3 separate regions of the Homo sapiens genome follow, and all the other regions are reported to be linked to region 3. The links are microRNA targets in miRTarBase. Many come from high-throughput screens and were not tested one by one. Region 3 holds a microRNA gene; each other region holds the end of a gene's coding sequence.

Region 1 (7,116 bases), not on the chromosome of region 3:
CTGCAGCTCCAGCCCAGGCCTCAGCAGCTATTCCTGCTGCTGGGAAGGCTCTGGCTCAAGCTCCGGCTCCAGCTCCAGGTCCAGCTCAGGGACCTTTGCCAATGAAGTCTCCAGCTCCAGGCAATGTTGCAGCTAGCAAATCTATGCCAATTTCTATCCCTAAGGCCCCAAGGGCAAACAGTGCCCTGACTCCACCGAAGCCAGAGTCAGGGCTGACTCTCCAGGAGAGCAACACCCCTGGCCTGAGACAGATGAACTTCAAGTCCAACACTCTGGAGCGCTCAGGCGTGGGACTGAGCAGCTACCTTTCAACTGAGAAAGATGCCAGCCCCAAAACCAGCACTTCTCTGGGAAAGGGCTCCTTCTTGGACAAGATCTCGCCCAGTGTCTTACGTAATTCTCGGCCCCGCCCGGCCTCCCTGGGCACGGGGAAAGATTTTGCAGGTATCCAGGTAGGCAAGCTGGCTGACCTGGAGCAGGAGCAGAGCTCCAAGCGCCTGTCCTACCAAGGACAGAGCCGTGACAAGCTTCCTCGCCCCCCCTGTGTCAGTGTCAAGATCTCCCCAAAGGGTGTCCCCAATGAACACAGAAGGGAGGCCCTGAAGAAGCTGGGACTGTTGAAGGAGTAGACTCTGCGACCAGTACAGACCCTGTCCTGGCTGAACAAGAAGAGACACATGCTCCACTTGGGAGCCTTTGCCACCACGCAACTCAGGGCTCAAGATGAATGGGAGGGAGAGATTTGAGTCCAAGCATACATTTATATTCAGTGTTGTGCCATTGAGTTCCCATGTGGATCATTCTGAAGGTGATCTCCACAAGAGGGTGTGTGTGTGTGTGTTTGGTGTGTGTGTGGAGGGGGGGCCGCTGGATACATCACTGAAGCTATTGATATAACACAATGAGTCACTGTTCAGAATTTTGCTCTTGTTAGATGTTTTCTTACATTGGGTAGAGTCCAGCCTAGTGAGAGCTGAGTGAAGGGGCTGGCCATGCCTGAGACAAAAAGTCAAATGAGACAATGGACGTGTCAATGACTTGAAAAAAAGTCACATCCAGCAAATGCAGGGTCACATGAAATATGGGCCTCCTGGAATCCCTACAGTGGATGGAGACTGGCTCATACCTTGCCAGATCCCTCTCTCAGTTCCAGCCTTCTGGACAAGGCCTGGGCTAAGAGGAGCTGATTCGTTATCTCTTCACCCACTGCCCTCTCAGTATCACCAGTCCCAAAGACAGGATACGTCCCTGTAACCCAATCTCTCGGTTGATTGATAGCAGAACAGCTCTTGTTGGTCTGAGAAGGCAGGATAAGTGACCACATATTTATGCCACTACCTCCACCAGGGAGAGTCCTTCTCCACAGGCTTGATAAATTCAATCACCAACTGTGCTGTCGTCCCTGACTCTGCTACTCCCGTTCTTCCTGCTTTCCTGCTCCGTATCTCAGTCTGCACTGACCCCAGGGCTGGGCTGACATCAAGATGGGAGCCCAGCCCACGGGCTTTATAAACACCCAAGAACCGTTTCAGATCTTCTCTGTGCTGATGCAGGTAGTTTTAAATTTTTCTCAGTTCCAGTGATAGAAAACCCACACAATACATCCTCTGCCAGTCTTAATAGAATATCAGAGGTAAGAGGGGCCTCAGAGAAGCTCTGACGCAGTGCTGCTGGGGAAGGGAAGTGACTAACCCCGGGTCAGCCTGCCATTTAGGGAAAGAGCTGAGGTTCTTACCCTTGTTGCATGCTGCCACCTCTCCTTAGCCAGTGCTCTTGTACATCCACACAGCACCCTAAGGAGCCATAGTCACCATCAAAGACTCAACCCTAAGGCCCTTCAAGATCTCAAAGTGCCTTCTGAAGCATCAGAGATTAAATATTGTTCAAACTAATAGTTATTGCTGTGGCTTTTAATTTTATCTTTGGAAGATAGCTATATGGTAACTCATCATTAACCAGAACACCTCTCCCCTCAAATTCCGTGACCAAGTTGTGCAGCTTGAGCAAATGCCGAAAGAGGGTATTATGGGTGGGTGGTGTGGGCTTGCAAATACAAGCTTGGAGGTGAGACATGGCCAGACATGACTCCTGCTTCCCCTTAGGAAGTAAATCTTACTTATGGTTGTGAACTGCTTGGAGTCCAGGATGCCCAGATGTGAGGGGCAGATGAAGGGAATGTTGCTGGAAAGGTGCCTTTTAAGGCTGCTGAGAATTTCTGGACTGTGTCCTGATGGACGCAGCACCATCAAAGCCCAGAATTTCTGAAAACGGTGACAAGGTTAACATAAGGACAACAAATACTCCACCCTGTCATGGTATGTGAGGTGTGGGTGTGGCGGTTTCTGTGTACGTTTGCTCATACACGCACATCCAAAAGCCTGTGCCTCATTCCTGGCCATGGGTGAGGACTTGGTCTGTCACGGCTGATGAGGACTCCCACAACCGGCCAAGTTATGTCTTATTATACACCCCCAGAAAGAGAGAAAGCTGCCTTCTGGAGGACTGATTCCACATGCTATATTCAGCTGAGTTGATTTCTGTGTCTATTTCAACCCATAACCTGAAGAATGATCACCTTATTCCTTATTCATTAATTTTCTTGATTAATAGGGAAACTTGGGAATAGCTATAAAGTAAAACTTGGGTGGAACCTGGGGCCCTGGCATCACACAAGTGTGATTAGGATGGTCAAGGTCATCAGGAGTACAGCCTATTATATTCCCACATCCTGAGAAAGGTCATTTCTCCCACACACGACAAAGTCACAGACATCCTGCACCTGCCACTAGGCATCCTCATCCTACTGACATGCCCATTTCTCCAGTTTTCTTAATCTGAGACTCCCTTCCCTTGTTTTTTAAAGATACCGTGCTTCTCCACATCCTCATCCTTCAAGGAGCATATTTTGCTCTTAGGATGGTCTTTGGGATTCAAGAATAGAATAATAAATCCAAACTTGGTCATTCCCATTTTGAAGAGATGCAAGAGGGCCCAGTGAGGACATCCGCCTCCCTGAAAGTGGTGCTAGACAGAGCTGAGGTCATTGTATCTGTGTATCCACATAGGATTTCTCTTAATTCAGCTTGAATTGATGGGGAGGGAGGTAAGAGTAGGGTCAGAGTTACTCATCCCTTTTCAAAGAATTGTGGGTGGAAGTTTGTAAAGGCCATTCATTTGATTTTCAAAATCAAAGCGACAGCTCTACTTCCACTTGGCCTTAGATCTCTGCTATACCCTGCCATAGCCTTGATGCCACTGGGCACAAGCCACCTGCCAAATACAGGAGTGGCCTCTCCCAGCCTGGCATGATAGGGGGGTCTGTGCCCTCAGATGTGTTGACAGCTGCTCTTCTGAATTGCCACACCTGTGCTACACTTGGAATTCTGTGCTCTGACTCTGCAGGGTAGGACCACGTGCCATCTCACACAGAGGTCAACCGATGAGCCCACTCACTCGTACATGCCTTCTTCCACAGTGGGAAGCATGATCTGGCAGGGGCCGCCCTGTAGGCTGGGGATGGGCTGCTGTGTGAATGTTGACGTTCGTTTCATGGAGAAAGGGGAGGTGAAAGATTGAAGAGCAGGTTCCTGTCAATGTTCTGAGTTCGAGCTGGAGGTGTAGATTGAATAGTCTACATGGTCTGTGAGTGTGTGAGATGAACCCTTCCATCCTTTGACACCTGGTTGTATGTGTAGGCTAAGAAGGAAGGACCCTCCTGTCAGTGTGCAAAGCTGTAATCTCATGGACTAGAGGAGAGGGGGCCAAGGGGATGGACAGGAGAAGTCATGCAGAATCTAAGCAGGAATGCAGATAGAACACATCTAGGCTCTTTTCCCCAGGAGAGTGATGATGGAGCATATAGATCTGGCTCAAATTCAGCCTCCATCACTTACCAGTCAGGAACCCTGGCGATATCACTTTAACTTTCTGAACCTCAGAGTCTTCACCTATAAGACGGGGAAAATAATACCACCCTTTCAAGATTGTTGAGATAAATAAGTGATATAAAACATGTAAAGCTTAGTTCTGGCCACAGTGTAGCTACTCAATAAATGATAATACTACCTTCTGGGTCTTATTTTTTTCTTCTCAAAGGAGGTGACTGTAGGGAGGGTTGGATACCAAGGGCTCACCCAACTCACTTCTGAGAGAAAGATAGAGCCTGCTGCACACAAAACTTACGGCACAACCAGGCTTCGGCACAGCCTCCACGTGACTCAGCTTCACCCATGCCAGGCTTCCTGGAGTTTGAAAAGACAGCAATTGGCATGGGTGTAATGTGTGTGTTCCGGTGCAGCCTGAACCAGCTGTTTCCAGCTTTCATATCCTCAAATCCAACTTCTCCTGTATCATCAGTCTCTTACTGCCCATGACCATAGAGCAAGCTTCTTTTTGCTTCCTTTTACTTTCTTTTGCTGTGTGGTTCAGAGAACTATATGCTGTTCTACAGTTATTTATTTTTAAAATGAAGGTAAAAAAAATAAGCATATAACAGGAGGGAACTCCTCAGAAAGAAATAAAAGCTAGAAAAGGTTTTAAAATTCCTTTTTTTTATTTTAAATAGCACGTTCTTTTAAATTTGTTCATCTCTGGAATGAATCAGGCATTAGTTATCAGGAGGCAAGAAGTACATTGGATGAGGTCTCTAAATCTCTTCAGGTGTAGGGACCTGTGAATTGCTGGAGTCATGACCACTGTCACAATCATCACTGACTGTTAGCATACACATGTGGTAAAAACAGATTACACTCTAATTCCAGGCTGTCACTCTCTCTTACTCATTACCTAGTTGGATTGTTGTCCTTATCACCACTTGCCACGTATCCAGAATTCAAAATAATGTGAAACAGGCAGAGGCCTGGACCAGGTGAGATTTAGTGGGTCACTTCTTCTCACTCTCAACATGAGGGACTTGGTCTTTCTCCTAGATCCATGCTAGCCCTGAAATGTATGTTTCGGTAAATCCAAACAAGTTAGGAAGATAAACACCTGCCAAAAATAATCAAAATATAGTCTAAAATAAACTAAACCTCAGAGAACTTGAGAACGGAAAGGAAACTTTTAGGTTCTGTAATTCAACCTCCCACCTAAAGAGGAATTATCTCTATAGTTGGAGATACATATGTTTCTTCCTTTCTTTCTATCTACCTATCTATATCTATGGTCAGAAATAAACACACACACATATATATATATGTATATATATATACATGTAGGACCAGGAAGACGGGAGGTTCGGTTTGGGGCATACTGAGTTTGAGGTTGCTGTGGGACTTCTAAGCTGACATGGCCTCTGGCATGTCAACTTAGATAGCTATATCTATATCTATATCTATATCTATATCTATATCTATATCTACCTCCAACTATGTATATATAGAGAGAGATATGGTCAGAAATATAGTTGGATAGATGGATGGAGGCTTGATGGATGGATGGATGGATGAGTGGATAGATGGAAGAAGATAAGAAAGGAGGGAAGAGGAGGGGAGGGAAGAGAGATTGAGAACATACAGTGGCCAAGAGCATAGGCTCAGGAGCCAGGCTGCCAGGGTCTCTGCACTTCAGTTTCCTTTTCGGTGATTACCTTTTGCATCTTTTAACTTTCTTTGTTGTGTGGTTCAGGGAACTTTATGCCGCCCTACAGTTATTGTTTATCTTAAAAATGGAGAGAAAACGAACTTAGATTATAACAGGATGGAACCTCGTAAAGTAAGGCAATAATAATACTTACCCCTTGCAGTTTTTATGAAAATAGAATCAAATGAGATACTACATATAAAAAAAACCATAGCACACTGCTGAATAAATGGTGTCTATTCATATTATTATCATATAGACGTGTAATTCAGATGCCAACTGGGACCCCCATCAGGACTGGTTAATCTTGGCCTGCACCTAGATTCCTCAGAACTGAAACAGTCAAAGCCCTCCTCCAGTTTTAAGAGCCTCCTACAGTTCTGTCCTATCTGCATCTGTGTGTGCTGCTTCGGAGCCTCCCCACACCTGCCTCCTTCCCAATCCACACTCTGCCATCCCTAAGCCACTGTCTCTGTCTCCGCTCACTATTGGTCTAGACCCAAAGCCCAGGCCTTTCACTGATTCCCATGGGAAATCAGGTTTCGTTAAGCATTTTGTTATTTTCTGAGTTTTTTACTGAAGGTCAGTGTGGGGGATGCTGGGGGACCTATCACAACCACATGGCCTCACATCACCTCCCCTTCCACCCTTTCTTTTTCTTTTCCAACTTATAGCACAACCAGCAAATCCTTCTCACCTCCACCCGACACTTGAGGGCTCTTAGGATCTAAGCGTCAACCCCCAGAGACTTTTCAAAAAATTCCTCTTACGTGAAGAGAGTTGCTGCGCCAAACTCTGTACATCTCTACAGATGGAAAGATCATTCTGGTGGCTGGGTTGGGAGGGGACTGAGACAGGCTGGGATGGGTGTGAAGGGAACAGTTAGAAAGCTACTGCTGTAGTCTGGGAGGGAGGCAGTGTGGCACTGTGCAGCTGTGGTGGTGGCAGAAAGAAGAAAAGAAAGAAGGTTTGAAGATGTTCATCACTGACATGATTTGGTGGACCTATTACTGAGGGTGAGGAAGAGGGTGAGGTCATGAGTCATGTTTTGGTTTCATTCCTTCGTGATTGGATGGATACTAATACCACTCACTGAGACATAGACCATGGCGAGAGGCTCAGATCTGGGGGTCCCCTGCATGGGTCTGTGTTTGGACATGTTGAGAGTACAGCGCTCTCTACCTCCTGGGCCTTCATGCCTGAAAGTAGGACTGAGGCTACAGCACAAGTTGACTTGCAACATCAACACCTCCTCCAGCTCACACCAACCCTGCCACACTCTGCTTTAGTGGGTAGGCAGGACTCTGTGAAGGCCTCCTTTGGATTAGTTCCTGGCTCTGTTCAGTTGCTTGGATCTGAGGAAATATTTGTCATCTCCTCTTTGAGTGACTCTCCTGCCCCCGTCCTTTAGGCAGGGGCTCCTGAAGGATCTGTCTTCATGTTCTCTTATTAAAAGCATCAAGCTGGTCCCAGCTCTGAGACTCTACCTTGGCTGTTCCTTCTGCTGGAGTTCTCCGCTCCTCATCTTTACATAGC
Region 2 (7,116 bases), not on the chromosome of region 3:
ACTGTAAATATGTAAAGTTTATGTTAATCATACATCAATAATTTTGGTAGTCCCCTCTAATAAATTGCGTTAAGATCTCATGATATTCGTGTGTGTGTCAAGCTTTCCTTTCAATTTGTGTTATTTTCTATTCGTTTGCATTCATTTTGTTGTATTTTTTTCTTTTCGATTCTATTGCATTGTAGTATATATGAAAGTCTTAGCAAATTCTTTTTGTAATAAGATGTATAACAATGTTATATTTCAACAGGACCATGAGATGTGATATTTTAAAGGCCAACAAATGCCTCTTTGCATGTCAGTTTAGAATGCCTCACTAAGAGGACTGTCCATAGGATGTAGTTCTCATTCCCATACAATCTGTTCAATGGTTTTTCTAATTTGTCTAATTTCATTCATTCATTCATTCATTCACTGAACATATTTCTGTGGCAGGATTTGAATGATATAAGTACATGATATTGAATTTACTTGATCTTATGTGGTTGATTATAACTGTAGTTTAAGCATTACATGAAAAATTTTAGACACTAAATAGCAAGTCCTACTGATGTTAGATGCAGTTTCATTTCTGTAACATTATTTTCTTCTTAGATGCTTGGTAGAATAATTTACTTTCAGAATCATCCTGACACATTCTGACATTTAAGTAGTTTGATTTTACATGATATATTATCCTTTAAAAAAATAGGACAAATGCCAAATGCCTGTATCAACTTCAGTGTTTACAGCACAGAATTATTAATTAAATTTAGTTCTTCATTTGAAAAATAAGTTTGCTGGACTCTGCCAGTTGGAGTGTGGATTAATTTAATGTAGTTTGAAATATAGGAATTACCAAATCCAGTTAAGTTTTTATTATGCTATTTCTATGTCTTGAGGCATACACCCCTGTTTAGAGATTTTTTTTCTCTCCAGGCTAAGATTTCTGTTCTTTTTTATTTAGCCTTCTTGGGCATGTTGCAAATATTCTACCTAGTTATGTTTTCCAGGTCTATTGTAGTAGAGCCAATTCTTCATTTTCTCTGCTTCTCACCTGTTTTTGTCTATTTATTTGTGTATAAGATGTCAAAGGAAAATGAAAAGTAACACCTCAAAATACCACCTTGAAAAGGAAAATGCCAACAAATTCTTTTCTGCACCTGAAGCTTTTAATTCTTTAATCCACCATGGAATGTTGCTTAATTACATATTTTATTATGCATAACTGAAAATTATGTACTTTAGTTTCAACAATGATATGAAAGCATGTATTGTTTATAAATAGAGACTGGTTTGTCTCTTTTTTTATATTACAAATATTTGTGGAATTCTCACATGTTCTCCTTCTAAAACTTGGCTTTTTGAAAATGCTCAGAGAGCTCTGAGAAAAACTTCAAATTTTAATGTTTTCTCTAGAAATCAGAAAATTCATTTCTTAAAAAAAAAGATGATGTCATAACGACATTATGGGTAAAAACCATTGAACAGTTTAAAGATTTTTGTAGAAGTTTTATCTTCGTTAGTTTCATGAAGTATTTATTGATGAAAAAATGTTACAATTGTTGAATTAGGTGATAAATTCATGGGAGTTCCTTGTCTCTACTTTTGTGTGTGTGTTTGAAATTTTCCACAATAAAATTTGTTTTTTAAAAGACATTTAGTGTGTATAGGTCTTTGGAGGTCACTATTTCATGAGGAAATATTCCATACACTTGATTTCAAGTAGTTAGTGATCAAAGTCTTCATATTAGCAAAATATGCATTACAACATATTTCTGAAAATTTTGAATTGCCATTAGGTTTTTGTGTGTGCATTTTTTTTTTTTTTTTTTTTTTTTTTGCATTTGAGAGAGTTTTTGTTAGGGAAAAGAGAGAGAAATGTGTAGACTTGAGTTTGAGACAAATGTGGCCACTTAACAGCTAAACAAATCAGTTAACCTATTTGAGTTTCCCTTCCGTTGTCTTTGAAGTGAGAATGTCAGTGCCTGCCTTAAATACCTCAAGGTGGAATGCAGAGGTTTAAACAAGATATGTTTGTGGCAGTGCCTAATAAAATGAAGCATTCTGCAAATATTTTTTCTATATTATTTAAAACATGTGTGAGGATGGTGCTAAGAAGGGGGCCTCAGAAGGAGAAAGCCTTTGTACTAGATCTAGTGAAACAAATGTTTGCAAATTCCCTTTGGAAACAAAGGTAGAATAGATGAAACCTGTCCCTAGATTAAGATGCCGTTCAACAGGTTTGTGCTCTGGACAAATGTTCATTTTGCATCACATTGCCACAGACTAACGAATAAACATATTTAAATATTTGAATATTCTTCTTCAACATTCTCATCTAACAGGTATTGTTGGTTCTCCTGTGAAAGGAAAATCAGAGTAGCACACGGGACATCATTGTGTCAGGTGGGGGTGGTGGTGTAAGGGCATGCATTAAAGTGTCATTGTAATGAAAATTTTGTATTTGAGTACCACAAAAAGCAAGTATTTCTGATTCAACTCACAGTAAATAACGTTCACCATTTACTTTGTTGCAAAATATGTCACTTCGGAGTTTCTTTGCAAGTGTTTACTTTGCATAACATACTGCTCTACTGCATTCGCTCATCAACCACTATCATAGAGAACAGGGCCCAAGTCAAGTGCTTTTGATCACAGTAAGTGTATTAGCAGCTGAAAATAATTGTTGGGAAACGGTAACCACACAACCTTGGTACGAGGCAAGAAGCTGTAATTGAGTTTTGGTAGTGTTCTTTTGATAGAATTAAATTTGGAGATATATGCTCTCTGTAAGTAGGGTAATGTAAGAAAGTCTTAAAAATGTGGCTCATCTTTTAAACATTAATTTCAAACTATTTTTATTTAACATTTGGTATTGTTAAACAGGTATAGTATTCAGGACATACACCTTCTACCACAATTTCTTTAATTAGGGTACTTTATATTTTATCAAAAATGTGCATATTAATAGATTGTAGTTTAGCCTTTGTCAAAAGACATGCAAGTATTTAGTATTTACATTAAAAGGATTGCCTCAGAAGAAACATTGAATTCATAAGCCCTCTTAAAAAGTCAAAAATATGCATAAAGAAGACTAGTATTGATATTTTCTGATATTTTAGATATGATTAATATTTTGGACCTCCATTGGTTTCCACACTATCATGCAAATTTCCAACTTGCTTTAACACAACAGTTCTATCAGCTGTATTAGAGGGAATACACATTTTAATTGCTCTTTTTGAAAATATCACCAGGCAGTTCAGAATGTCTCATTTATTGAGAATATTGTGACAATCAAAGACCTTAATATCAGCCAGATGCTAACAATTGGGAATAGGGCAGAATTTAATAATGGAATGTATGGGATTCTCATTTTTACTCAATCTTGAATCATCTGAGAATGTTTTCTATTCAAGCCAGTATTTTTAGATAAACACAGATATAGATATCGCTACTTTGAAAAAAATCACTTATTTTAAACTCAGAATTTCTTAGTACTAAATGCTAACCAATACACATTTTATACATAATATGTACAGACTTTGTTACCAAGCGCCACACAACTAGGACATACATATTAGTTACCTTGGTTTTCAAAGGTTGTCAACTCTGCATATTGTGTGGCAAGGAGATACTATCAACATTTTTTTTTGCATAATGTGCAAGTATTATATGGCCACAGAGTGTAATACAAATTAGTGGCAAAGTGCTGAGTGAAGGGAATCCATGACAGATTCAGATGCACAAGGTTGAATATTACCCGTAAACTACCTGACTCTGCTAAGGTCTTAACAGCACAAAACGCTATGTCATGCCCAGCTTTTAAAAGTCTCTGAAATACTTGGACACAATGAAGCTTGTTAAAGGAATTTTACCATAGCCACAGGTAACAAGAGGAGGATTGGCATGAGCGATAAATGACATTGGGGGAGCAATATGGAAGATCATCTGGGCAAGTCTTTTCTAAAATGTGCCATCTTCCCTGAAAACAATTTTGCTCACTCCATCCTATCAGTTTATTAACATGTGCTTGTGTGTGTGTGTGTGTGTGTGTGTGTGTATGTGTGGGCATTTAAAATATCAAATTATCAAAACCACGCTGACTTTTAAAAGTTAAAAAATCTAAGTGGGAATTTTGTTAGCATTGTTATGTTGATTACCAAACAAACATTCAAACATTCATCATTTCACTGAAAACACTATTTCAAAATAATTTAGGTTATTAGGAATTGGAAAGTTATTTGCAACCCAAACTTAGGGGATATAAGGAAGAGGAAGATAACTTCATGGCATTTGAGTTTCTATTTTATTTCCTATTTTTTAAATACATGAAACCTAGTTTCTATTTTCTTAATTCAAATTCCTTTGGCTCAAATTATTACTTTTCTGAACTCTAGTGAGCCAGAATGTTTGTTTTCTTACTAAATAAAAAGTGGCAACTTTTCAGTACAATTTTAAGTTTGCAACAAACCAGCTGCCTTCAGAGGAGCTTAGCTGTGCTTCAAAAGTAAATGGAACTTTAAAGCTTTATTGAAAGTTTTCAATGATTCCACTTCAGTTTCTAAAGTACAAGTTCAACACTAAAGCAGCCCAGTTGCCTACCAATAAGCTCATCAGGGCCTGAGAAGATGGTAGGCAGAAAGAGAAGGGGCAATTGCAAAATGGTATCTCAAGCAACCCAGATACCCCTACTAGCATCTAGGAAACAAAGTGAGGGAGCAAATAAAAGAAAAATCACCCCAAACTGTAATGCTGGCCTCAATCCTGTGACCATTAGCACACCTCATTTTATATTCTGGCATTTTACTATGTTTAATGTTGCAAGAATTTTGAAGATTGTGTTTAAATACCAGGTGTGTTATTCCTATTTTCTTCATGTAGCTCTTATAGTTATGAGATACACTTACGAGCTCAGTTATTAACTTATTCCACTTATAACTTGTGAAAAAAAAAAGCTAAGGGGTTTTTATACAGAAGGTCCATTTTTTCCCCTACTTATTTTGTTACTATTAATGGCCTTTAGAAATATTTATACATTAGCTTAAGGAAAAGCATTGCTATAAATGAAGTATTGTGAAATAAGCACAGATGAATCCATTCTAACAACATAACTGCTAGAGACTGGATTTGTTTTTGTCGGAGAGTCTTTTGACCATCCTATCTCTACTTATTAAGCAAAATGTTAACCAAACAGGTTATTTTCATTGTGAAATTTCATACCTATTTAAAAATGAGCATGTGTTTGTGATTTAAATTTACAGTGTTTCAAGTAACTTGTCAATTGCTCTTTTTAAAATCAGTGAAATAACAAGTTATTAACATGCACCTAAATGAGAGGGCCATCCTTTGACTCCTTTAGTTACTTCACATAAGCAGACAAACCCTACCATGTCATACGATACAAACAATTTTAATTGTGTAGTTACAGTCAATAACCACTCCTAGTCAGAACATTTCTGCATAAAGAAAATTGTGATACACTTATAAAAACAGCCAGCTGTAACAAAATAGCTGTTTTCATAGCCATAAACTCATAAAAAAGAAATACACCTTTATACAGAAATTTTATACAGATGTAGCTTTAAAATTGATTGTAAACCAAAGGAAGACACATTGCAAACATCAATTATTTTCACATTAATTGCATAATTTTCTAAGGTGATCTATTAGTTTTATTTACCTAAGCTTATTTGCATGATAGTAAAAATTGCATACAACAATAAGAGTGAAGCTTATAGTATGAATTGCTTGGATAACATAGAGCACTTTTTATAGGCAACTGTGTAAAGCACATTTTCTCTATTTAAAACTTTTAAGACACTTTGTTTTACTGCCCATCAAAATACATTTATAAATAGAAAAGAATCAGTATGGTAACAAGAGAAGCAATATTACATTTAACGGAAACTTCCAAAAAATTAATTACAACATGATGCTGCAGGATCTACAAATAAATAATGAGGACTAAATTGTGTTTCACATTTTCTTTTCCTTTTTTTAAAAAATCATGTAACAATGAGAATGAAAAAAAAGTACAGTGAACTTTTATTTCCAAAATAAAAACAAATTTGAATTACGGCAGTGCCATATAATACAAGGCATTTGTTGGCATATGTCATCTTTAAACTGCATTCCACAGTCTATAGTTCTTTTGTAACATACAATAGAGTAACAAACTCTTTTTTTTCTTTTTTTTTTTTAAATAAGGGGCAAGTTTCCAAAGATCAGTGTGGAGTGCTACAGAAATAATTATAGGAGAGGAAATCATAATCACAGAAGGTATAATGCTTGTTTGAGGCTCCGGAATAAGAACTAAAAAAAAAACAAAAAACACTGGTTTCATGCTTACGGGGTACACACTTTGGTGCATCCCGTGAACACAAATTTTAATACCAAACAATCCTTGATGCTTCACCTGGGGCTGCCAAGCAGTTTGTAAAACAGAGGAAAACATTTAGTGCAGTCTGTATTATCCTTTTCCAACTTTTCTGTTTGTGCAAGTTTTTGAAGATTCATTGGCCAAACAATGAACAACAAAGGTTTTCTGAGAGAAGACAAGGTGGACTTTTCATTTTGTTAGTAAATACCAGTGGCACTGTTGAACGAAACAAATACTTTTATCTCAGTCTTTCAAATCAGTATTAATGTCTGTGTTTCCTTCCACTGACAGCTCTTCTTCTAGTTTCACTGAAAAAAGGGTGTTAGTATTTTTATCTTGGACACTCTCTTCCAAATCCTTCAGCAGCTCCTCTTCTTTATATTCTGCCACATCGACCTCTAAACCGGAATTGTCCTTCAGTTTGCCGTGGTGCTTGAGATAGTACCGCTGGTTCTGAAAGAACTTGATGATGGTGTACTTGGGAAGGTCGAGCTGGGCAGACAGAGTCTGGATGGCCTCTTCGTCAGGGTACAGGCCCACGTCTTGTATGAAACTCTGGAGGATTCCCAAGGCTTCCACTGAAATTTTTGTTCGTGGCCGGGTCTTCTGTCGGTTTTCCTCATCTGACTCTGCTGGAGAGGCCACCGTGGGTTGCCGTGGGGGGAGCCGAGGGCCTGTCTGTGGCTGCTGCTGTGGCTGTGGAGGCGGCGGTGCCTGCTGCTGCTGCTGCTGCTGTTGCTGTTGCTGCTGCT
Region 3 (7,124 bases):
TGGCACATATGTTACCGAAGAGCTGGTGCAATGTGGAAACACTGGAGTGGAGGTCAGAAATTAGATCGATGCTCTTTCCATAAAATAGTTTCCACTTTAAGAACAGTGTTTTTAAAAGGAATATGTTCTTTCCTATGCAAAGAGGCAGTGTGGTCCTAGTTAGCAGTATGTTGGAAGCAAACTTTGGATAATGATGCCTAATTTTACTGACCGTTTTGAGTATTAAATGAGTCTATTTATGTAAAATATTTGATCTAGAGGCCTAACACTGTGTGGATTCTCAATAACCTAACCTGTTTACATGAGTTCTTAAAGTTGAATATGAGTTTCTACTCACTTTTCAGGTTATCAAGCATTTGGTGTGAAAGGAAACTGTTCTGTGGCAGACATGAAATGGCTGGGAAGTGGGAAACGCAGGGACATGATGTTCAAGGAGTGGACAGGTGATCCAGTGAGGAATTGGGCTATGGAACATGGAAATATTCTTAGAAAGTAATTACCTTATTTTTCTCCTTTTGTTGTATTAACTGATTAGCTTAATCACCTCCAAATAATGAGAAATCAGTATACAAGTTCTACACCTTGGCAGAGGGCTTGGATCCCAAGACAGAGGAAGGTATTTGCAGATGATGGATGGAGAGGATATATACAGCAACCTTACTGAAGTAGCTGGGTCTTCCTTGCCTGTATGTCATACCATGCTTCTTCAAATGTTTTATCCAGACTAAAGGATGCCAGGACTGATTTCCCAAACATTAGGATAATTCTACCACTTAGAGGAATGCAAGAAAGCTCCCCTGTCTTTGGTGATTTTTTTTTTTTTTTTTTTAAGTAGAAGATGAGAAATAGCTTGTATGGAACAGAGAAGTCTTTGTACCGATACATATTCAACTAAAGATCTGAAAATCAATAATCTCAGGTTTTGAAAATAGAATGCTATTCTTATACCATATGTTTAATGTACATCTGTATAAGGTTAACAAAAATCTATTACCATCTCACTACTTAGTCTGAAATGGAAAACCTAGTGTTTTTAAGTGATCATAGATAATTCATTAAAGCGTAAGGCTCCTACATAATAATTATTGCTTGTCACTTTTGAATCAACAAATAGATATTATGATGGATCAGAGAACTTTTGATATATCCGTATTAATTATGATTGTCTCATTAAATATAGAAAATGTTTGTTCTCACATTCCTTTGGCTGACACCTCCTCTTCCTTCAGGCGTCGGCATTACAAAATGTATTTCCCACTGCACCTGCCCCTGCCTCTACCCATCCCTACCACCTTTGCCCTCCACCCTCTTCATATGAAAAGGTCTTCCTGCTTCACACCCATAGCACACTGACCATCAGTAGCACTGATCACAACTACAGTTGGTTAAATTTTGCGTAATAAATTTTCTAATGAGGATTTACCTCAATATATTCTCTGCTTCAAGAAATAGTGATATTAGGAAAGGGCATATACAAACAACTCAATCTACTTTGCTGTATAAAAAGTTCACTTATTTATAGAAAATTTAAATATAATACATATTAAGATTCTCTGAGCTCCCTACTAAATAACAATAACCCCTCACATTTGCATAGTGCTTTATACAAGACACGTATATTATCCTCCTCAATTCTTCAGAGGTAGGTAGAATCTCATTTATTTTATGGATAAGAAACTGAGACTCAGAAAGGTTAAGTAAGTTCCACAAGATCATGGAGCCTAGTAATTTGCAAAATAAGGCCTCCAATCAAATCCTAGTTTTCTTTCTATACCCCAGCTGCAGCTTTTAGTAATGGTCTAGTTCAGCATACATATAAATATTTATAAACATTGTGTCATTGTTCTGAATGAGTATATCTTACTATTTTGACTGTTTTATGACAGTGGAGCTGCGTAGTAAAGTGAACATTTGCAGAAGTTTAATCTACAGCCATTTTATATTCCCTCTCCCTCTGCTTTGAGATTTTATCCTTTGCTAGCAACAACATTCTTCTGTAACAACAAATAAAGCAAGCATCTTCCTATTTGCCTTCAAATAAAACAGGTTTAGGGATTATCTGCTCTTTTCACATACTTAAACACACCTTGAGTTTCTTTTTATAGACTTTCCTTTCTCCTGACACTGTGAAATCCCAGTGCTGTTTCTTATTTGAATGTTTTATCATCTGACACCTAATAATAAAAAGTCATTGGCACAATAACAGAGTTTCATCTTTCTTAAAGTTTAAAAATGTTTAGAAATTATTTCATTTCTTAAATAAAAATTGCAGTAGAATTAAGTATTTCCCTAGAGAGATAAAGATTGAAATTTGAAAGTAAATTGCTACTAACTTTGAGCCAATTAAAAAACTTTCATGGAAATGATTTTTTTCACATTCATTTTTTTTAATGTAGTGCTAAAACCAAGGAGTATCATATAAAACAGGCCCAAGGCACGTTTTGTACCTAAGCTAAAAATTACTTTTGTGGCCTTTGACATATCAAGGAACTTTGCTATTATAATGCAAGCATAAGATGAAATTTATTCAACCTTTTGAAAGTTTAAACATAAAAAGTTTAACATAAGAAACTAAAAAGTTTAAACATAAAAAACAGTTATTGTCTGTGCAAGGACTCAAATTCTTTCACTCTCTTCTTTTTTGTTTGTTTGTTTTTATTTTTGAGACAGAGTCTCACTCTGTTGCCCAGGCTGAAGTGCAGTGGCGTGATCTCAACTCACTCCAACCTCTGCCTCCCGGGTTCAAGCAATTCTCTGCCTTAGCCTCCCGAGTAGCTGGGATTACAGGCACCCACCACCATGCCTGGCTATTTTTTTTATTTTTAGTAGAGACAGGGTTTCACCATCTTGGCCAGGCTGGTCTTGAACTGACCTCATGATCCACCCTCCTCGGCCTCCCAAAGTGCTGGGATTACAGGCGCGAGCCACCACGCCCAGCTACTCTCCTCTTTCACACACAATTTCCAAAATCACAGCACAGATTGTCCAGAAAACATTTGTACTAATAGTTTTGTTTATGGAATTTGAGTTATTCCCCAAAGCACAAAATGTAAAAAAAAAAAAAAAAAAAAAAAAAATTCTTTTATGTAAAGTCTAAGAGAACAGTAAAAATATATAATGTGGTAGCTGGTAAGGAAGAAACTGGTTATAATTTTAAAGCATAAAGCATAATGCTTGAAAAAGATTCATGGAAAAACTATAATTTTATCTAGTTAATATATTTACAAAGCAATATATTTATTTACTGATATTTTTAGTGGTCATCATATCGAAAATATATAGGGAAGGAGTATATAGGGAAGGAGTAAGTAAGGTTTTCCAAAAAGTTATGTGAAGGTATTCTTGTGTTCTCTAGATCAGTGCTTTTAGAAAATTTGTGTGATCTAAAGAACACAAAGAATACCTACACAGAACCACCTGCAGACTGGTGCCAGTCCACAAAATATCTGTTTGAGTATGCAAGAAGATAAATACAGAAATTGAGAGTAAACATTTAGGAAATTTATAGCAATCTGACATCTCTGCAACATCCAAAGTATATGATTTTTGTATTCTACAAAAGCTTAGCTCAGATCTATGATGGGTTAGAAAACAAATACTCAAAACAAACCAGCTCCTTCACCACAGATGGTATTTGAAGTTCTGATCAAGCTCATGGTCTGCAAACCTTTTCTCTAAAGGGTCAGATTGTAAATATAGGCTTTGTAGGCCATACTCAAAGTCCCTGCTACTCAGCTCTCCCATACCCAGCTGCAATAGACAATATATAAACAAATGAATCTTGCTGTGTTTCAGTGAAACTTTATGGACATTGAAATTTGTATTTCATCTAATTTTTATGTTCTTAATATGCTAATATTGTTTTGATTTTTTTCCCCCAACCATTTAAAACTGTGAAAACCATTCTTGGCTCTTGCAGGCCATATGAAAACAGGGAGTGGGCTGGATTTGGCCCTCAGGCCAAGTTTGCTGACCCCAAGCTAGATCAGCAGTCCAGCCATCGTCAGGAACAGATGCTGTTATTTCTTAGTCTCAGTGTTCCCGTCTGTCTCGGGATTTTAATTGCCACTTACTTTCACTCTGCAGTTTGGGTTATTATTCAAGAAATACCTTAGAGCACTCATAATGCTTAGAACATTATGTTTAATAAAATCCAGAAGGAAAATGTTCCAAGTATCTCACTGTGGGAATACATTTTAGGATTTACTATGACCTACTGGTTTACATGAACTTTGCTGAGAAAAAAAAAAGCATGGAGAAGATTGGGATGGAAGATCTCTTTATTGTGTGTATAAAAGTAGTAATAGGCTATTTTAATTTGTGGCCTGGAATGGGTAGTGATAGAGCATGAGTTGAAATCTTGCTTCACGATTACCCTCAAATGGAGAAGTAATCTGTTTCAAATGGTAATCAAATGAAAAAAAGCTGTGAGTAGATTGTGTTAGCTTAGCCACCAAAATAGAGAATTTCTCAGATTCCCCCTCTGTCTCCAGTCCTTATTTTCTCCTACTGTTAACAGAAATTCAAACCCCAGCTGCTCCCATAGTTAACCAGCCGTCATGACATCGTCGTCTTTCTGTTCTTAGCAATTTCCATCTGGCTTAGTAGAAGTGGTTCCTCACTACCTTGAGCATAGTCGTTTTTTTTTTTTTAATTTTTGTAGAAACGAGGTTTTACTGTGTTGCCCTGGCTGGTCCTGAACTCCTGGCCTCAAGCATTTCTCTCACCTCAGCCTCTCAGAGTGCTGGGATTACAGGCATGAGCCACCATGCCCAGGCCGCCACTTTAAACACTTGAATACTACATACTTTCACTACTTGATTGATCTTGCACATAATCATCAAATTACAACATTCATGTTTATGGTTTTACTTATTTGTTTTTCACATTTATGTAGTGCCTTTTTTTCTGCATCGCTTAACATTTGCCAACAAATATCTGCACGTGAACTAAGCAAGTCATTCTGTTAGCACAATGACCTTGAGCAAAGGCACTTTCCTTCTTCATATGCATTTGTTAGTCTTTAGTCCTAAGTTTTTGCTTTTGTTTAGTTTGTTTTTTCACTCTTCACATACGAGCAGTCTTTTGGAAAGAGTTACTTATAGTATTTCTAACTTGGAGAAACCTTTCATCAAGTTGAAAAAGTTCAGTGTTCTGAGCGATTATGATAGAATCTCCTGTCAGAATATATGTTCCCTTTTTGTTCTACTTCAAAATATAAGAGGTTAACTCTTGTAGGCATGCCACAGTATTTTTGGATTAAGTCAGGCCCTCCAAAAAACTTAGAACTATGAAACAAACCAGTGTTTAAGAAGACACATCCTTGGAATATGAGCAAGCCCATTAATTCTGTATTTTGAGTAAAAGGTGTTTGATCTTATGCATGCTGTCTTCCATGTCATCATTTCAAATGATGAAGAAACTACATCTCCTAATATTTGAGAACAAACTGCAAAAGTTGGTCCCTTGATTGTATTATAAATCCATAAAAAGACCCATTTTTAAACACAGCAACTTTTTAGGCAACTTCCTGTTTTTCACTTGAAATAGAAGTCAAACTGTTATAAGTGCTGTCTTCATTATTCATATTTAATTACACAGTGGCTTATTCTTCATTATTTTAGTGTATTTGTGAATACTCTAGCTATTGAGTAGAATACTGGTTACAAAGCTAGTCTATAAACAACATGAAATGAAGGGTGCTGACTCAGAAATTTAGAGTCCTCCACAATACCATATCCAATGGGAATTAAATCATTGTATTGTCTTGTGAGTCTTGAGGCTTATTTATCTAACTGATGTTTATCAAGCACCTTCCATGTGGCAGGCAGTATGTAGCTTTTATTTTATTTAGCAGTATCTTTTTTAAGATTATAAATTTTTTGTTGAATATTATTTGCAATCAGGGACACTTCTAAACTTAAGGAAAAACTTTACGACTAAAGTGCCAGCTCTCTTCAGAATGGCAGTGAAGGTAATGATTTGCGGTTCTGTGTGTGTATGAGTTTGTTATTATAAAATCCTTCAGCTCCGGGCTATGTACATTTATGTTTCAGTAGCATGTCTCATTAAATCCTTTAGTGCAGTACTTCTCAGTGAAGTGAGTTCTGATCAATGTGAAGGAATGCTGAGTGGGCACAATTGTGACTCTTGTTCTGAATATTACCTGTGCTTCCAGAAAAGTATTTTAGCAAGTGTATGACCCCTGGTTAATGAAAAGTGTTAAAATATATCAAATAAACTGTCTTAATTGTTCTTTTAATAAAAATATATGTCCACTTGGAAATAATAATTTCACTATTTTAACGACTGTAGTTGTTTTGGAAATTTGTTAGATAAAGGCTCCAACAGCATAAACTAATAGTTTTATATTACCAGATTGCTTCCAGATTTCTCTTTTCTGTTCAGTGAATAAGAATAGGGTGTAGGATCAAATTTCTAATGATTTTCTCCAGGAGAACCACTGTTACGCAAATACCGAATTTATAACACTTCAAAATAGACATCAGGGCAAATTTTACAAGACCTATCAGTTCATTTTTATTGTTTGCTTCTGTAGGTAGTCATATAGAAGACCAAAAGAACCATAAAACACTGTTTTTACATACATGATGATAGGAGTTAGGTGGGGTAAAGTTTACTAATATTTGTTAAGGAACCTACTACAGTAGTTCCAACTTTATTTTGGACACTTACATTTGTTTGTCATTATCTGTCCTCTGTTCCCAAATTGCCTTAATTTGTATATCATCATCTTACGTATTCACTGTCATTATCTCAAGTTTCCAAGGGTTTTTGCTATGTCACTATTTTTTACCTGTGCCTATTCTATTTCTTTTCTTTCTAATTTGTTTATTAGTTCTACAGTGTTATTGTTTAATTTATTGTTTCCTTCTGCAACCTCCCTTTTTATCTCATTTTTTTCCACTGGTGTCTCATTTAATTTCTATTTTCTTTAATCTTGTAGTGTAATGCACTCACGGAGATTTTTGGAGGAAGGTGGAGAGGGCTGTTTTCTTCTAAACTAGATTCTTGCTTCCTTCCCAGCCCTCCCCCTTTCTTTCATTTTTTTCTTTGCTCTGGGAGTCCTGCTTAGTTGTCATAGTCTTTTCTCTTTGTAAAAC

What was found. Region 3 holds the annotated microRNA hsa-miR-581 (UCUUGUGUUCUCUAGAUCAGU, at 3,341-3,361, shown strand). A microRNA usually pairs through its seed, bases 2 to 8, with sites in the 3' UTR of a target mRNA and lowers its output. Matches are read on the target gene's strand: a 7mer-m8 pairs with bases 2 to 8, a 7mer-A1 pairs with bases 2 to 7 and ends in A, and an 8mer does both.
Region 1: the mRNA of C1orf116 is a reported target of hsa-miR-581. Seed matches in the 3' UTR shown: 7mer-A1 at 817-823 and 7mer-m8 at 2,668-2,674.
Region 2: the mRNA of SATB1 is a reported target of hsa-miR-581. Seed matches in the 3' UTR shown: 7mer-m8 at 4,015-4,021.

What each region holds. Positions count from the first base shown.
Region 1 is chr1:207,015,471-207,022,586 of GRCh38, reverse strand. C1orf116 (chromosome 1 open reading frame 116) reads left to right here. Exons shown (of 4, transcript NM_023938.6): 4 at 1-4,065. The coding sequence ends at 629. Among named protein-coding and RNA genes, the nearest start is that of C1orf116, 14 kb to the left of the region's middle. RefSeq lists an enhancer at 1,841-3,040.
Region 2 is chr3:18,342,563-18,349,678 of GRCh38, forward strand. It overlaps SATB1 (SATB homeobox 1), which reads right to left. Exons shown (of 11, transcript NM_002971.6): 11 at 2,815-7,116. The coding sequence ends at 6,608. Among named protein-coding and RNA genes, the nearest start is that of SATB1, 79 kb to the right of the region's middle. RefSeq lists an enhancer at 2,209-2,829.
Region 3 is chr5:53,947,801-53,954,924 of GRCh38, reverse strand. It overlaps MIR581 (microRNA 581), which reads left to right and starts at 3,326; the gene lies at 3,326-3,421. The region is part of intron 4 of ARL15 (ARF like GTPase 15); the gene reads left to right.